Linked DNA regions of Homo sapiens. The protein of the gene in region 2 interacts with the protein of the main gene of each other region in a biochemical or structural test. Each region holds a gene or a part of one and is shown on either strand. Other genes may lie near its edges.

Region 1 (4,352 bases), on a different chromosome or scaffold from region 2:
CCATCTCTAAAAAAAAGAAGACAGAGGGTGAAGAATAACATTGCAATACCTTATGACCCTGTGTAGCACTATGTAGCATCTATGGTACTGTCCTTCATTTTTTCAATCAATGGTTGTTCATAGAACACCTGCTCTCTGCCAGAAAATTGTTCTAGGTGCCTCGAGAATACATCGGAACAAAAGGCAAGGTCTCTACCTTCCTGGAGTTTATATTCTAGTTGGAGAAAATAATGAAGAAGTCATTACATAAATAAGGTAACTACAGGTTGTGCCAAAGGCTGGGAAGAAAATAAGTGGGGAAATGTGGGAGAAAGTAGTAGGAGTGGGACTCCATTGGAGGGTGGTCAGGGCAGGCCTATCTGAGCCAGTGAGAGCCACAGGAGAGAGGGAGCCAGTCTTGCCTGGAGCTGGGTGAGGGTCAGTGCAGCAGCTCTGTATCTGTAAGAGGTAGGGTAGTTCTGTGTATGAGAATGCAGACTCTGGGGCCACACCACCTGGATTTGAATACTTGCCCCTTGGCTAACTAAATATATTCCACTATCAGGTTATTTAATCTTCTGAACTTCAGTTTTTTCATCTGTAAACTAGGGATAATAACAGTACCTCCTTGAGAGGGTTGTTGGATAACTGAATGAGTCGATACATGTAAAGTACTTAGAATAGTGCCAGTTATGTAGTAAGCACCAAATAAAAGTTCAATTGAGGGTGAGAGAAGGAGGAAACTGTTCCAGGCTGAAGGAACAGCAAATGCTAAGGCCTGGAGGCCTGAAGGGGCTTGGTGCATGTACAACTAGACAGTCTGTGTGCACAGGTATTATCCTCACAGTTATCGGGGAGACTCAAGAGCAGGCTCTCTGCCCCTTCAATACAGAATTATATATTTTAGGAATTTTGAAGAAATGACCACCCACAGCACTTTTCACTTGCAGGATCAGGCCGAGTGGTGTGGTGAGCTGCTGCTGCTGCTGCTCCTGCTACAACTTCGGGGACATTGCACAGTAGACCCTTCTTTAGGATCTCTTTCCCTCCCTCCTTCCCTGCCCCCGGAGGTGCTCATTGATGCATAAAGGGAAAGCAAGAGTGGAGCTGAGCCCCTGGTGCCACCAGCCCTGGTACCAAAATACTGGCTGTGCCCGCTTGCTGCGGGGTACCCTTCAGCCATCATCCCCTCCTCCTCCCAAGCTGGAAACTACAGCAGGGGAGGCTAATTGTCTGTGCCTTCTCCCTTGTTCCCTCCTTACTGAAATCTACTCAGTAAGGACCAAGTGACCTTGCCCTGTAAAGTAACAGTGACCAAGCCCTGTTATTTTTACTTCCAAAATCTCTCTCAAATATGCCCCCATCTTTCCATTCTCTCTGAGCATCAGGCTTCAGTGCTCTGTACTGTAAAGTGTGGCTCTGATCTCATCATGCTCCTCCTTAGAGCCTTTCAGTGGGTCTTCCCTGTATGGATACTGAAGTCCCGAGTCCTCAGCCCAGCAGGCATGATGGGCTACCTCCATCCTTTCTCTCACACCCCCTCCTCTGCACCATGTCCCCACTCTTTTTTTTTTTTTTTTTTTTTTTTTGAGATGGAGTCTTGCTCTGTTGCCCAGGCTGGAGTGCAGTGGTGCGATCTCGGCTCACTGCAACCTCTGCCTCCCGGGTTCAAGCAATTGCCCTGCCGCAGCCTCCTGAGTACCTGGGACTACAGGCACCTGCCACCATGCCCGGCTAATTTTTGTATTTTTTCGTAGAGACGGGGTTTCACCATATTGACCAGGCTGGTCTCGAACTCCTGACCTTGTGATCCACCCGCCTCGGCCTCCCAAAGTGCTGAGATTACAGGCATGAGTCCCCGTGCCCAGCCTCCCAACTCTTAATCCCCCTAGCCTCAGGTCTCTAGGCCTTTGCTCCCCCGTCTAGCCCCTCTGTCTAGCATGTGCTTTAGCCTTGGTGGTCCTGCCTATGCCTGAAGGCTAAGCTCAAATCCTACCACCCTTAGGAAGCTGTCTTCCAGATCCCCTCATCCCAGGGATTTCACTGTTCCCTGATACTTGGTACCTCTCATGGAGAAGTCATTACTGTCAGCCTTGAAGGATTTTGTGTGCGGTCACTTGTGTATGTGGCCACAGCTCATAGAAAGCCCTTGGGAGGGCCGGCACAATGTCCTTCATCTTTCTACCCCACAACCCTTTTCACAGAGCCTAGCCCTAATGCAAGCTTGATAATGGTCTGTATCGGATTGACAAAAGCCTGTGATTTTCCCGATATCTGAAATGGTTTGAGTCAAGCCAGAAACATGAGGCTGATGCTTAGGGGTTGCATATGGTTGTCAGCTGAACTCACTCGTGGCATTCTGATCCCTCAAGATGTAGCTCCTTCATTTGATGATGGGTTGATGCAACCTCTAAGATGAGTCTGAGTTTTGAATTTAGCTTTTCAGTGTGCCTATTTTAAAGGAATATACTGTGTAAAATTTGAACCTTGAAGCTTTTGACAATCATTCTTTATATTATAAAAGCGTTCCTTACTGTAAAAAAGATCAGTATAGAAAGCTTTCAAACACCAAATATACCTATGCACTTAACACCAATCAATGTATAAAATTTTGGTTTATCCACAGCTATTGTAGTTGTACTTTTACTGTATCCTGAGATATACACTAAACTTAATATATGTTCATGGAAGCAGTACTAACAGTGGATTAAATTTGTTTTGGTAATTACAGATTACATTATACAGGTTTGCAAATCTGAGACTTTTTTTTTTTCAGTTAACTATCTGCCTGAAGGACAGTGGGAAGCCGGACTAGGTGCTTGGCAGATTGATATGAGGGCAGAAGCCATTATTTTCATTAAGTGACACAGTGTTTTCAGGAACTCATCTGATGTTTAGAGACCTTTTTGCCAGCAGTTAGAAGTGGTTTGGGCCACCAATCCTTTCCCAAGCTGGCTGCTAAATGGTATGTGGCCTTAATATTAGTTGTTTTGGTGAAAAAGAAAAAAAAAAACACTAATTACAAGTTGGAAAAGATAAGATGGTAAATTTAAAAGTTCTTTTGACCTCTTTCAAGGAATGATCTGAGAACCTCAGCTGCTTCAGTAAAAGGGTGATATGGCAAAATTTCAAAATCCTGAATGGAAAGAGCTTCAGAGGAATTCATCTGGATGCAACAGTGCATCATTCTCTGAGATTTTTGACTTAAGAGAAGACAGATGTGCAGGCAGCTGAGAAATGCTGTGCTTCCTGTTCTTTGAGTATCTAGAATATAGGGTGTAGGCTACAGCTTGTATTAAAACCAACGATAACAATCCCACCTCCCCTGCCAGTTGAAACCCCTGTCTGATGCTGACTTGTAACTATTCACATGTGAAGCTTCTGAGTTACTGCTTTGTTGTTTTCTTTGCTCCAATGTAGAATTCAGAAGGATGCAAAAGGAAAAACAATTATTAAAGACGAGGATGGCATTTATTCGTTCTTATAAAAATAATTTATTTAGTAGCTGCAGTCTCTGTTCTCTCTGGCTTTCCCTGGAAAAAGACACCACTCCAGACTGTCCAGGGCTCCCCTGGTACCTGTGAATGTGCTGTTAGTTCCTGGTCTGGTTAGAAGATGATGTCTCTGTGGAGATACATACTTGGCCTCTTTCTTTCTCCCTGGGGTGAGGGACATTTTATGTATAGGAGATGGAAGAATAGACGGTCTCTTTCTCAAGCTCATTCCTGGTTATTTTCAGTACTTAGCTCTTTGCAAAAACTGCGTAATAAGTGTCTTAGTGAGAGTGTGCCTTGTTTATGTGCTGAAAACCTAGATTCACACATATGTTTCCAGATATTTTAGCTACCAGCATAGACCCTCAAACAAGACTGCCAGCTCCGGAGATGATCAAGTACAGCCTTTGTGTGGTGCAGGAATTCCCCTAGCATACCCAGCCTCCCTCTGCTTGGACCTACCAACCCCCACCACCTTCCTATTCCATCCTCAGTTGGCTCTGGTTATTACAAAGTTCTTCATTATTCCAAGCCAAAAATCTTCCTCTCGGCAATGGTTGCCCCATTGGCCCGATCCTGTCCTTTGAAGCCCCACACACAAAAAATCCATTTCTTCTTCCCTATGACAGCTAGTTAGGCCACTTGGACCTTCAAAGACAGGGATCAGGCCCCCACATCTTCACTTCTTTAGGCAGAATGCCCACTTTATCTGGCCCCCTGAAAAGCTAAGAATGGGACACCGCTGTGCAGGTGGGGGTCTGATCAGCCCAGACAGGAGCAAGCCCACTGCAGCCTCACTTCGGAATCTATATTTGCGTTAGCACAGCCTGAGGCCAGTTAGGTCCCGGTGGGTCCCCCTTCTGAGCTGTGCACTGGGCC
Region 2 (5,204 bases):
GTCACAATCGTAGTGCCAACTAGGTGACAATACTTTGCAGGGCTGGGACAAAGTTTTCTGGATGGCCATGTAATGCTCTGAATCAGCATCCAATATATGGTACTGTTTCTCCCATAGCCAGGATTCACAGGTTCAGGAATCAAGGGGTGGAAGTCAAAGTGGCACTACTCATCATCACCCCTAGTGATCCACTAGCCAAATTTTTGCCTCCTGTTCCTGTGACATTACGTTCTGCTGGCCTAGAGGTCTTAGTTCCAGAGGGAGGAACACTGCCACCAGGAGACGCAAGAAAGTTTCCATTAAACTGAAGTTAAAATTGCCACCTGGACACTTTGGGCTCCTCCTACCTTTAAGTCAACAGGCTAAGAAGGGAGTTATAGGTGCCCACCACCACACCCAGCTTATTTAAAGAAAAAATATTTTTAGTAGAGATGAGGTTTCACTATGTTGGCCAGGCTGATCTCAAACTCCTGACCTCAAGTGATCCGCCTGCCTGGCCCTTCCACAGTGCTGGGATTATAGGCATGAGCCATTGTGCCCAGCCTGACCTAGCTGTTCTTTTAAAATTTACCAAGACTATTTTTGTTATTTCCTCACAGATTTCATATGGCAATGGAAATTACCTTCACATCATTTTTTTGCAAATGGCTTCATGCATCCCATTGATCTGCCTTTATGTCTGCCGGCTCCATCTAATAATCAGAGCTGGACCCAGACTTTACCTGCTCTAGGAAACATTCCTTGATTTAAGACTCACAAATATACATATAGTACATCCACCCCTGGTGCCTTCTCTAACCAATTATTTACTCAAAATCTCCACTTAGATGTTTCATAGTTCCTCAAACTCAACATGTCCAAACCTGAACACAAGACCTACACTCTAACCACTCATATTTAATTTCTTTACCCAAGTTTATCTAGGTCAGTGAATGGACACCTTGGTTACCCAGTTGAACAAGCCAGAAGCTTGGAGGTCATTCTTGAAGATTCCTTTCCCTCACCCTGATAGGCTACCATTCACAAAGTCTGGGGGATTGTATCTCCTAAATATCTCTTGCATTGAGATACTTCTTTTTAACCCCACTGCCTTCATCATAATCTAACTTAACAACTTCTCATACCTGAACATTCGAATTATTTGACTCAAGTCTACTTGCATCTAAATCCCAGGTATATCTGACATCCATCTGATCATATCAATTCATCAAATGGTTTCACACTGCTCTTAGGGTAAGGAATAAAATTTCTCAAAATCTTATTAAAATAATTCGACTCTAAACATAATTTTTTTTTCTAAGACTACCCTTTTCCACTTTCTTTGACACAACTGAACTAGATCTCATCTGAGAGCTTTATTCTGTTTCACATGTATGGAAGATTTACATTAACAGCCCCACTCTTCCCCATTCCTTACATCCATACACTTTGCCATGTAACATTTCAATGCTCTCCCACTGTTGGTAACATGTAATTCCCTGACGCTGAGTTCAACTGAGTGACTTGCTTTGGTCAATAAAATTAGACCAGATTCAGAGCCCAGGCTCCAAGAGGCCTTGCATGTTTCTACTTGTCCTCTTGAACCTCTCCCTTCACTGTATAAAGAATCTGCTTAATTGATCCCATGGACCCATGGGAGCCCTTTGATCCCATGAGCAGGATAAGGAACATTTGGAGTGGAACTGCTCAGCTAAACCCAGCCTAGACCAAGTCACCCCCAGGGAACACAGAGATTTATAAGAAACAATAACTGTCTGTTACTTTAAGTGGTTTTTTATCTAGCAACAGCTAGCTGATACACAGACATAACAATTTGCATTTCCCTATGGCTTGGTAAGTATCTTCTACCTTTGTTGGTACAATTAGGCCAACAAGGATTAAAATCAACAAAGAATGTGTACATGGATGTTATCCTTACTGCTATGAATATCAAACTATTGCTTGAGGATTGAGGTCCAGTAATAAAACAGCAGCTATTTCTCCAAAAAAATCCTCTGTGACTTTTCAAATGAAATGAGGGCTTTCCTGCCAATCCCACAAGTCAGGAAGATAAAATTGGGCATGGATCTTTCCCTTGCTGCTGCAGAAACTCTTCATCCCTGTCAGAGATGGCAGATCCATTGCTACAACCAGGGGGCCGTGCTGAAAGTTCAGAGCTGGTTTTGGAAATGACACAGTCTACTTCATTCTGGATAAGGGCACAGTCTGTCATAACAGGTTATTTTAAAGGTCACCCTAGATTTAACCAGGACATCTTGTTCCTTTCTTTTATCCTCCAAATTTTTCTTTGAAAAGCTGTTGCATATCTCTGGCCTTTCTATTTTCTCTACCAGACAAAACCTATTACTAAGTGGATGTTAATTAAGCCACAGGGCCAAGACATTGACAATTCAAAATGAAAACTATGACTGCATATGGCATTGTATCCTGCCCCCAAATGCTGTGCTCTTAAAGGGAGACTCTTGAAATGAAAACTCGTGCACCTATAAATGCGAAGAGTGACTTGAGTGCTATAAAACAAAGTGCACTGGTTAACACACCGTCAGCTTTGTTATGTCAGGACAGAAATAAAAATCTAATAGTAAATAGTCAACAGATGTCATAGCACCGGAGAAAATAAATGCATACACACCTGGATGGGTGCAATTCTTCTCCCTGAAATAAATTTTAAGAACATATGTTTTAGTCTTGCTCAAACCCATCCCAAACTCCAAAGCAAACATGTTGAAAGGAGAAACAATGAGCCCTCCTAGTTAAAACATGTTTTACATTTTGGTGGGATTGGAAATTTGAATAACTGGCTCTTTCTCCCCTTTTAAATCAGTGACACGACGTTGTCTTTAAATAGTGTGCATTTGCAAGAGGGCCCCCATTGCTCTCGGGTACCTGACAGACCATCGGTAAGCCTGGCCTTGGTGCATCCTTTCTCAAAGTGCCTCTAAGGACAGAAGAAAGTGAGCGAGATCATTTTCTTTCCTCCCCAGATTGCTGCCCTCCTTTCACTTAAGAGCCAATGCTTCCTAAAGAGAATGTGTCCCCTCAGTGTGACTTCCTGTGCTGTCTCCTTTTTAGGATCTACTGGCCCTTGGGGGAACTAAGCAACTCTGAGATCTATTTTGCTTTGTGGTTCAGCAACTGAGAGGCCGGAGGCTTAGAGCTGTGTTACCTGAGGACTAGGGTGTCGTAGGGTGGGGCTGGGCAGGAAGTGGCCTTCTTGCTGCCGAAGAGAGGCCTGGTGAAGGGACCCTTCATTGACAGGCTGAAGCTCAGGAGGGAGATACTTGTCAGTGGGCCGGGTTTGGGGCTCCAGTGAGTCAGCTGCATTCAGGGCCCTTTCAGGTTCAGAGGTCAATCTTGAGTGGAGTCTCAAGGGTGACAGCAAGTGTGAAGAATCCTTTGGGCTTCCTGGCAGGCTCTTCGAAAGGTAACATGGGAAGCCCACAGGAGCTCCCCAGCTTCCCCAGGTGGTCACCTGCCAGGCATCCTGCCTTGTCCCACAGCCACGGGTCCTTAATCTCCTCAAAGTGGGCGAGGTGGAGATGCGGCCTGGGGCTTGCCGGTCAAACTGGAGGAGACTCCCCTGGTTCTTTGGCAGGCTCCTCAGCGAGGGCCGAGGAGAGGCTCCACAGTCTTGGGGTGGCACCTCTGGACAGAATGACTCTGTTTTCTCCATAAAGCTAAGAGGTTCTACTGTTGGTAGAAGGTTCCAGAAGACGTATGAGTTGCTGTTCTCTGGATCACATGGAGGGTGCTCAATTTCTGCATCCAAGTGCCATGCTTCCTCTCGTAGTTCTTTTCCTTTTCCAGAGGAGAATGTCAAGCAGGTTATTGCATCTGTAGTGAGGAAGAGCAGACTGTGAAATATGTAGCAAATGAGGGAGACTGCAGTGAGAAAAAAGGTCTAAAATTTCAAAGGAAAACTTCTAATTCTTCATAGGCAATAGAGCTCAGTTCACATCAGCATCCTTTACGTTCAGAAGATAATTAATATACGTGACTCCAGCCTTCTCATCTAAATAGCGTATTGAAGTCTGTTTACTGTCTACTTAATATTCCTTCTAGGTTCAAACAAAAAAGCCTTTAAAAACTTTGGTAACTTAAGGTACTTCCTGGAAACCACATAGCTCCTCCCCTTGTGATTATTCCATTTTAAGAGAATCAAATATACATTAAATCCTCCTTATCATCTACATTTATGTATGTATGTACATATTGTGGTGCATTCTGGGGATGCAAGAACAAGGAAAACAAGCCTCCTTCCCTCAAGGTTTAAATTACAGAATGAGACAGGCTTTGAAGGTAACTGATGTAAAGTATCTGACAACGTCTTTTATCTTAGATTCTATCAATCTTTACATTTTGGAAAAAGGACTTGCAGGTTTGAAAAGAAAAACCCAGACATCACCAGGTACCCTACTGTTCATGATTGGAGGTGTTTTTTGCAATCTATGCATGCAGAATTATCTCTTCTCATGCTCAAGAAAAGCTGACCCTTCCATTTCACAGCTTGATTCATGGGAGTGGCTTATTGCAGTTTCGTTATTCTGTACTTTCCCACATGAAGAAGGTATGTGTGGGAAAACATCAATCCTTACACATCCCTTATGGCATGAGAGTTGATGCTTGATGATTTGCAGACCAGGTGTGGGACTGTGGGACAGGCGAGAGACCCATCTTCCCTGGCCGCAGATGGCATGGGAGGTGGCTTCAGACTGTGCGTGGATTGTTTGTGGATGGAACATTAGTAGTTGACCGTATATTCCAAGATCATCAATAATAGTTTTAGTAAGTTTATCATTCTAAAGCAGAACTCAGCAATCTGAAACCCTTTGCCCACATTTGGATAGCCAAAATTTAAGAATGGCTAATAATTTACTTCTTATAATTTTAATTGCATGGGCAATACTTTTTAGTAGAACTTTTCTAGGGTGTATTATTTGCTTCTTTAACTTGATATAGAGAAGGCTGAAAACCAATAAACCTTTTCCTTATAACCTGACCTCATTCTGTTGACTATCATTCTAGTACTTTGCCAAAATACAGTGATTACTACTATGTTTACTATAGTTCTGTGGAGAATACAATAATTGTTACAGGCTTCTATAGCATCTGAATATTCACTCCCACACCAAATGGCCCCACACCAATGTACTCCCTAATTTTTATTCCTTACTTCTCACTATGCTTTTTGTACTTGCCTATGG
Region 3 (4,074 bases), about 41 Mb from region 2:
GGGACCCACTCAAAAAGCAAGAACCATGGTGCAGGACAGGTAGGGAGGGTCTGCTCAGACCTCTCTCAAAGCCACCCTTTGCATGCTGGTTACTCCCCGGGAGGAGCACTGGAGCAGGGGCCTCAAGTCCCAGGCCCAGCTCTGACACTAGCTTGCTGTATGACCCGACAGGTCACTTCAAAGAGGTCGTGACTACCACTTGGAGATGCTTGAGCACACACCATGTTGGCACACACTGTATTGAGGGTCTACCATGTGCTAGCATCAGGCAAGAAAAAAGCAGTGAAGACAGACAAGGCTCCTGAGCCCTGTGCAAGAAGCGTGCATCCTCCCGGGTGGGGCGGGCAGGCAAAGATAAACCCATAAAAGTCAAGACAGTCTCGGATGGCGATGCACAGTCTGATGGGAATAAAACAGGGCTGTCACAGGGGAGGGCATGACTGTATTTACCACTGGGTGGGAAGGTCTTCGGGAGGCAGGGCTGAGGACTGAAGGAGCCACCTGTGGGAGGGGTAAGAGCACAGACCCTGATAGAAGGGGTCTGAAGTGTGCCAGGTACAGCCAGCAGCGCAGCCAGAGCGGGGAGTAAGAAGCAGAGGCCGGCAGGGGTCAGACTCTCATCCTGGGAGGCCGGGCGCGGTGGCTCACGCATGTAATCTCAGCATTTTGGGAGGCCAAGGCAGGCAGATCACCTGAGGTCAGGAGTTCGAGACCAGCCTGGCCAACATGGTGAAACCCCGTCTCTACTAAAAATACAACAATTAGCTGGGTGTGGTGGCGCCTGCCTGTAACCTCAGCTACTCGGGAGGCTGAGGCGGGAGAATCACTTGAATCCAGGAGACAGAGGTTACAATGAACTGAGATCGGGCCACTGCACTCCAGCCTGGGCAACAGAGGGAGACTCCATCTCAAAAAAGAAAAATCTCATCCTGGGGTGGGAAACCGCTGAAGACTGCTAGAACAACAGAGTGAGCCGTGATTGGGCCCCTCACAGGCCAGGTGGTAATGCCTCAGGTCCCTACAGATCTGGCTTGTGCCCCTCAAGGGAGACCTCAGAAGCTGGGAAGAAAGGCATGCCAAGCACACGTATTTCTACAGGGATGGCTAAGGACTTGAGGCAAGCCTTGGTCACCACCTGCTTGGGTATCTGGGGAGGGAGGCTCAAGTTGTGAAGAAGCGTGGGGCCTCCAGCTCAGGCCCATACATGTAAGTTTAAATCTCCCAGCCTATTTCCCTGGCTTCAGGCTGCAAGAAAACAAGATGTGTGTGCGTTGGGCGGGGGTTGGGATGGTGGAGTCAGAGCTTGCCCCAGCCCAATCCTCCCCCTCAGGCAGTCACCACACTGACACAGATGCAAAAAACCATCCATTTATACAGTTTGTGGTTCAGAAGCAACAATATGCACAACGGTGGAACAGTCTGTGCTGTCCCCACCCCACCTGAACTCGCCAGTTCCTGTCTCCCAAGGGGCACAGAACACAGGCCCCCTGCCTGGCAGGACCCGACTTAGTTACAGGCCCCTGGGAGGGGCGAAGCCCTTAGGGGTCGAGGCCAGGAGGGAGGAGGACCAGCACCTGATGCCCCTGGGGGCCCGCTGGGTCATGGAACTGTGTGTGTGGAGGGTGGGGGGTCAGCCCACCACGGGCCATTTCTCCCCAAGGCTAAGGGCGGGGGAGCAAGTAAAGCTGAGGAGAGGGCTTCATGGGACAGGGTTCCCATCCCCTGCTGGGAGGGTGTTCCTGGATACCCCACAAGGCACTACAGATGCAGACTGTAGGCGAGCACCCCCATCTTTGGCCCCCGATTGCCTGGCTCTCCCCCTGCCCCAGCTCCCACTGTGGTTTGGCGGGGGAGAAGAGAAGGGGCTGGGCCCCCCACTCCCTCAGCAGACACCAGCCAGGAACCGACCCGGCGGGCCGAGGCTAGGAAGGACCCTCTCCCGCTGCTCTGGGCTCCTGGGGTCCTCTTGGCTCGGCCTCCCCCTCTTTTAGCGCTGGCTGTTGCGAATAAATAAATAAATACCTCCCTGCCCGCCCCCGCCCCTACAGCTGGCTCTCCTCCTCCTCCAGGGAGCGGTTGAGTCCGGGGATGAACTTGAGCAGCCGCCGGCGGAAGCTGCGGTACTTGGTTTTGCGCAGGCCGGGGCCGCATAGGGCCTGCTCGCGAGCCTCAGTCCAGAGCGCGCCCGGCGCGCCCCCGCCTCCGCCCCCGCCAGGGCCCGCGCACCGCACACTGGCGCTGCGGCTCAGCGCGGCCCGCGGCCCAGGGCCCGGCCCCACGGCAGGGGTCTCGGCGGGGCCCGGGCCGAAGGCGCGGGCCGGGGGCGGCGGGGGCGGCAGCGCCGGCGGCTCGGAGTCCCCGAAGAAGCACGTGTGGTAGACGGCGTCGTCGGCGTCGCCCCTGGCCCGTCGGGCGCCTCCGCGGGGACGCCCGGGCACGGCGAGCAGAGGCCCGAAGGGCAGCGAGCCCGGGAGCAGGCCCGCGCCGTAGAGGCAGGAGCGCACCGACTCCAGCGTGTCGTAGATGCTGGGGTCCTTCACCACCAGGCCTGCGCAGAGACGGGAGAGGTAGGGGGCGGGTCAGGCCTGGACCGTGGTGGCCTCTGCAAAGGGTCGGAGGGCATGGGCGGGGCGTCCCCGCTCCGTCCTGCTGACCATCTCTGTGGCCCTGGCCAGGCACAAACCTGAGACCCTACTTCCCTCACCCGCAAATCAGGAATTATCACTCAGATCCTTATGGGGGCCGCTTAGCACAAACGGGCCTCGGAAATAATTGACACAAACTCTTTGAGCCCTGGTGTTCCCCTCTGTAAAGTGAAGATGACACTATCTGTTACTTACCTGCAGAGGGCTAGTGTGAGAATAACCAGAAATGTGGCTGCGGCAGTACCCAAAGTAGTAGTAGCTCAACAAACCTTGCTTTACTGTGGAGGTTTACTAGTAAACCGTTCTTTACTAGAACCCGCCAGTTCTGAGGGGGAAGCGCAGATGGGGTGTCTGTAGCAGAACAAGTGGCCCCTCACACCCCGGGATCTACTCACCATGCACCAGCCGCTGCTCCTGCACCATTAGGGACCTGTACTCTCCCCACTTCTCATACAGGGTTTGCTGCAAGAGACAGTCCCCACCCCACTGTCACAAGCTAGCAGGAAACTAGCAGGACGTGGGTACAGACGAGGGATCAGGGAGTAGACAAAAGAAATCTTCAGTTACAGGAGATTCAGCTGTAAGTGACCCCCCACAGGGCAGAGGCTTGGGAAGAGGAGGGTGGAGGCTGGACGTTATCTAGGTTCCCCTACCTTCAGGTACTGCAGACGAGCCTCCAGTTCTGCCTTCCGAATTGATGTCCCATATAGAGTTTCCAGTCTGAGGTTGGAGAATCAAAGCCTGAGTGAGCCACAGGCTGAGGAAATACCAAGAGGCTGAGCTCAGGAATTCAGGCACCTCGGCTCCCAGACATACCTGAGAACATTGCCTGACGCCTTAATGATGTCCACAATCTCTCGATGCCGGATGCCTTCCACATTCAGGCCATTGACGCTGGCGATGGTGTCCCCTGCCAGGCAGACAAGGGGGTTAGATTTGCTCCATGGGGCATGCTAGAATACCAGCCTCCTACCTTAGCCAGAAAGGGGAGAAGGGTGGGTAGTAACTCCAGGGAATACTCCTGAACTCCCTCCTCCAACTCCTCATGGTTCTCTGTAGATCTCCTCTGACATCTCTCATACTCGATCCAAACACACAGAACCACAGCCATTCTTGTGGGCCTGTAGTGACTACCAGGTTGTCCACGCCCAGCACCCCAGCCAAAGGGTGGGGACCTCACACACCCAACACCCTCACTCTGCCCTCAAGAAGTTCTGTCCGGCCGGGCGCGGTGGCTCACGCCTGTAATCCCAGCACTTTGGGAGGCCGAGGCGGGCGGATCACGAGGTCAGGAGATCGAGACCATCCTGGCTAACACGGTGAAACCCCGTCTCTACTAAAAATACAAAAAATTAGCCGGGCGTGGTAGCAGGCGCCTGTAGTCCCAGCTACTCGGGAGGCTGAGGCAGGAGAATGGCGTGAACCCGGG
Region 4 (4,352 bases), on a different chromosome or scaffold from region 2:
GGTCCCTTTTAAAACTTGTTAGTTTCATGGTGGCAAAATAAATTTGTGACCTCTTTTCTCCACTACTCACTGAATATTATTAACTAACAACTTAGCAAAAGTGCAGTTCAAAATAAATGCAAAAGAGTAATAGCATTTAATCTGGTAATTTGGATTTATTTATTTTTTTTCTTTTGAGACGAGGGTCCCACCCTGTCACCCAGGCTGGAGTGCAGTGGTACAACCTTGGCACACTGCAACCTCCACATCCCAGGCTCAAGCAATTCTTCAACCTCAGCCTCCTGAGTAGCTGGGACTACAGGCATGCACCACCATGACCTGGCTAATTTTTTTGTTTTATGTAGAGGCAGGGTTTCGCCATGCTGCCCAGGCTGGTCTCGAACTCCTGAGCTCCAAGCGGTCCACCTGCCTCGGCCTCCTAAAGTACTGGGATTACAGGTGTGAGCCACCGTGCCCGGCCAGTAATTTGGATTTTTGACATGCTTTTAGCAAAGTTTCTAGTAAATTATTGTGGAATTAGTGCTAATTCGTATAATCTTTGTTTTATTGAAGTACAATAAATATAGTACAATAAATACGTTAATATGGTAAGTTGCACAAATTTTAAGTGTACATCTTGATGAATTTTAAAGTAAATATATGTAACCTTTATCTAGTTTAAGGGGCAGACTATTTCAAGACCCTAAAAACATCCCTCATGGCCTCCCCAGGTCATAGTATTAGAGTAATCTTGTATTGTTTTTTCCAGATAACAAAGCTTTATTCGTCATTTCCATGTCAGACAATGGCGCTCAGATTTATGAACTGGTGGCACAGACAGTTTCTGAAAAGACTGTGTATGTATCAGATATGGCTACCTTGCTATAGCTAATATTTTCATTATCCCAAGCGTAATATTCCATAAACTTAACTTTGTTTTTATAATGTATGGAAACCAAGCACTTCCTCTGTACTCTTTTAGAGACGTTCTACTATGAACTTGTTCTTTTTTAGGTTGATGCCTTTTATTTTGATTCTATTCTGAAAGTTTATTTCCTAAAGAAAAAATTGTGCAAAATGTCAAGTGAAGTTTTTTTAATGTGTCCATAGATTTCTCTTAAGGTATAGTTTTGGACTCTCGCCTTAATAGTGTGTTGCCAAAATAAAGATATTCTCTGGCAGAGTGGGTTTTGTTGTTGTTGTTGTTGTTGTTGTTGTTGTTGTTGTTGGTTGATTTGGTTTTTGTTTAGTTTTGCTTTCTGAGTATATTTAAAGGATATTTCTTTTTTCTTTTTTGTATTTTGGATTTCTTTCCAACTTTCTGAAGCTGGCAGGACCTAATCTGTCGGATGGCTGCATCAGTGAAGGAGCAATCCACAAAGCCAATTCCATTACCACAGTCAACACCTGGCGAGTGAGTGTTCCTTTGCATTGTAGTAGGACTTATTTTATGTTTTGGGTTGGAAAAGACTAGGATAATTATTATGTTTTGTTGCGATGATGTTTAGATACCTCAGGAAGGTAAAAGTTTTTTTTTTTTTTTTTTTCTCTACAGAGGAGATAATGATGAAGAAGATCCTTCAAAATTAAAAGAGGAGCAGCATGGCATTTCAGTCACTGGTTTGCAGAGTCCAGGTACACTCTTCTGAAGAGTTCAATGGAGAATGTGCTCTATTATCTGTTAAAATGCTGGCCGGATGTGGTGGCTCATGCCTGTAATCCCAGTGCTTTGGGAGGTCGAGATAGGCGTATCACCTGAGGCCAGGAGTTAGAGGCCAACCTGACCAACATGACAAAACCCTGTCTCTACTAAAAAATACAAAAATTAGCCGGGCATGGTGGTAGGTGCCTGTAATCCCAGCTACTTGGGAGGCTGAGGCAGGGAGAATTGCTTGAACCCAGGAGGCGGAGGTTACGGTGAGCCGAGATCGTGCCATTGCACTCCAGCCTGGGCAACAAGACCGAAACACCAAAAAAAAAAAAGAAAAAAAGAAAAAAAAGAAAATAAAATAAAATGCAAAGAAACTTTAATACTGTTTGGTTTATGCAGGTTCCAGCATCAGAGATTCAGTTTAACAAACTTTGCCTTTGAGCCTTCTGTGTGTCAGTATAACACTGTTCTAAGTGATGTGTATTTTTCTTAACAGATGATCTCTGTAGTTTATGGATTGTTTTTTTTTTTTCTGATTCTTCCCTGAATGCTTCATGTTAAAAGTTAAAAGCTTTGTTTAGATATAGTCTACCTTTTCTATTCCATTGGACAGACAGAGATTTGGGATTAGAATCTACCTTAATATCGTCAAAACCTCAGTCTCATTCACTGAGTACCTCTGGGAAATCAGAGGTACGTGATCTGTTTGTGGCTGAGAGACAGTTTGCAAAGGAACAACATACAGATGGGACACTAAAGGAAGTTGGAGAAGATTATCAAATCGCAATCCCAGATTCACACCTGCCTGTCTCAGAAGAACGGTGGGCATTGGATGCACTAAGAAATTGTAAGTTTTATTCATAACTTATTACAGATACTTACTAAGTATGACACTCATGTGCCATCCCTAAAGTATGTGGATTTATCAAACTCCACTTATTCTTCTAGTTCTATTGTGGAGATTATAGTATTCTCTACAGTGGCCCATGCCACAGGCACACACACACATGCCACTCTGTTAGCTCCCCACCCCCCTGCCTGGTTCAGAATCACTGTTAAAATGGGAGGATAGCATATCTCTCAGTTGTATTGAGGTGGGAAAAAGGCTGAGAACAATTTCTTTGGCTGGGGAGAACCACTTGAAATTTTTAAACCAGCGTATGACTAAAGGTATGAAAAAAGATTAATCTGGCTGAAAGCGGTGGAAGGATTTGAATGGAAAGAGGTATGGAATGGTGTACTTACTAAATAAGCTATTATAATAGTCTGGCCTGAGACTAAAAGAGTTTGGACTAGAATGTTATCAGAAGGAATAAGAAGAAACTGAGAAGTCATCAAATGCTTAAAATAATTGACTTCTTTGAATGTGAGGTCAAAGGAAAGGGAATATTTAGAGATAATTTCATTAATCTAGTCAGAAATAAGAGTCAGAAAAGGACTACCACTGCTTCCCCCACCTCCTTCCATTGTACTTTCTTTTTTCTTTCTTTTGATTTGGTAGAATTATAGGCTCAGTTTTAAAGCATGTCAAGATTAAGATAATGAATGACAAAACACTAAAAAGTGAGTAACTAGCAGGAAGTTAGAGTTTTAGGAGTGAAACTTTAGAGAGAGGTTAGGAAGAGATAGAGATGTGAGCATCAGAGCCATGAGACTTCCTGGCATCTCTCAGGAAGTGATTGTAGAGCAGAAGGACAGAGGATGAGAGACCTAAGTGGAACCTGTTGCCTAAAGAAACATGACAGACATTAAGCTAGTGATGAGAGCAGAGAATTGGTTATTTAAAACCTACAATATTTTTTATACCTTCTCCTGAATTAACAGTCTTAATAATTTCTGATGGTTGGAATAACATTGTCCCAATAACTCTATCATTGTCTGGGTGACCTCATAGCATACACTTGGCCCATTCAAAATTAAATTGGTTCTTATTTTCAGTAAATGTATGTATCTCATAAAATTAGAGGAAATAATATGCATATAGTGTCTGGATCTGGAAAAAGCAGAACTTTTTTTTAGCTTTTTCTGTCTAGCTTAACACAGCCTTTCAACATTCTTAAGAAGTACCTTTAGGGTATTATTCTAGTTATATAGAAGAAAAAATAGAGGCATGATATTGGTTATTGAGGAGTTCTAAATAGTAGTATCTCCCTATTCAGAATGCTTAGATCTTTTCAAGTTTAGTTTAACGTTAAATCTTCTCTAAAAGATGGTGCTTTATTTCATCTTCAAAACAAAATGGAAAATGATTGTATGAAGTAAGATGATTGTATGAAATTAATAATTAACATTTTAATATGTCATTAAAAGATACTTTTTAAAGATAGATCATTGGTAAGTCAGCTAATTTAATTCTTGCAGCCTGAGGTTATAGTTGTGAATATGTTTTTTTTCCCCCTCCTTCCTAAATCGTTTAGTGGGTTTGTTGAAGCAGTTGCTGGTGCAACAGCTAGGTTTGACTGAGAAGAGCGTTCAGGAAGACTGGCAACATTTCCCAAGATACAGAACAGCCTCTCAGGGGCCGCAGACAGACAGTGTCATCCAGAACTCTGAAAATATTAAGGCCTATCATTCTGGTGAAGGACATATGCCCTTTAGAACTGGAACTGGTGACATTGCAACTTGTTACAGTCCACGGACTTCAACTGAATCTTTTGCTCCACGGGATTCAGTGGGACTGGCACCCCAGGATAGCCAGGCAAGTAACATTTTAGTAATGGAC

What was found. The genes of interacting proteins can lie anywhere in the genome.
Region 1: the proteins of PLEKHG7 (region 2) and FRMPD1 interact in a test that uses a peptide from one of them, tested with the Homo sapiens proteins (one large-scale study listed by IntAct).
Region 3: the proteins of PLEKHG7 (region 2) and TAMALIN interact in a test that uses a peptide from one of them, tested with the Homo sapiens proteins (one large-scale study listed by IntAct).
Region 4: the proteins of PLEKHG7 (region 2) and ARHGEF12 interact in a test that uses a peptide from one of them, tested with the Homo sapiens proteins (one large-scale study listed by IntAct).

The regions. Positions count from the first base shown.
Region 1 is NC_000009.12:37,653,954-37,658,305, forward strand, and holds part of FRMPD1 (FERM and PDZ domain-containing protein 1), read left to right. Parts: intron 1-4,352. UniProt on the Homo sapiens protein: Stabilizes membrane-bound GPSM1, and thereby promotes its interaction with GNAI1.
Region 2 is NC_000012.12:92,705,101-92,710,304, reverse strand, and holds part of PLEKHG7 (pleckstrin homology domain-containing family G member 7), read right to left. Parts: intron 3,835-5,204; coding exon of another isoform or gene 3,674-3,834; coding exon 3,167-3,673; coding exon of another isoform or gene 3,152-3,166; exon of another isoform or gene 2,656-3,151; coding exon 2,633-2,655; coding exon of another isoform or gene 2,590-2,632; exon of another isoform or gene 1,756-2,589; intron 1-1,755.
Region 3 is NC_000012.12:52,013,168-52,017,241, reverse strand, and holds the end of TAMALIN (protein TAMALIN), read right to left. Parts: intron 3,556-4,074; coding exon 3,462-3,555; intron 3,366-3,461; coding exon 3,299-3,365; intron 3,108-3,298; coding exon 3,041-3,107; intron 2,549-3,040; coding exon 2,043-2,548; 3' UTR 1,353-2,042; downstream 1-1,352. UniProt on the Homo sapiens protein: Plays a role in intracellular trafficking and contributes to the macromolecular organization of group 1 metabotropic glutamate receptors (mGluRs) at synapses.
Region 4 is NC_000011.10:120,475,913-120,480,264, forward strand, and holds part of ARHGEF12 (rho guanine nucleotide exchange factor 12), read left to right. Parts: intron 1-748; coding exon 749-836; intron 837-1,306; coding exon 1,307-1,393; intron 1,394-1,534; coding exon 1,535-1,614; intron 1,615-2,243; coding exon 2,244-2,477; intron 2,478-4,047; coding exon 4,048-4,352. UniProt on the Homo sapiens protein: May play a role in the regulation of RhoA GTPase by guanine nucleotide-binding alpha-12 (GNA12) and alpha-13 (GNA13). Acts as guanine nucleotide exchange factor (GEF) for RhoA GTPase and may act as GTPase-activating protein (GAP) for GNA12 and GNA13.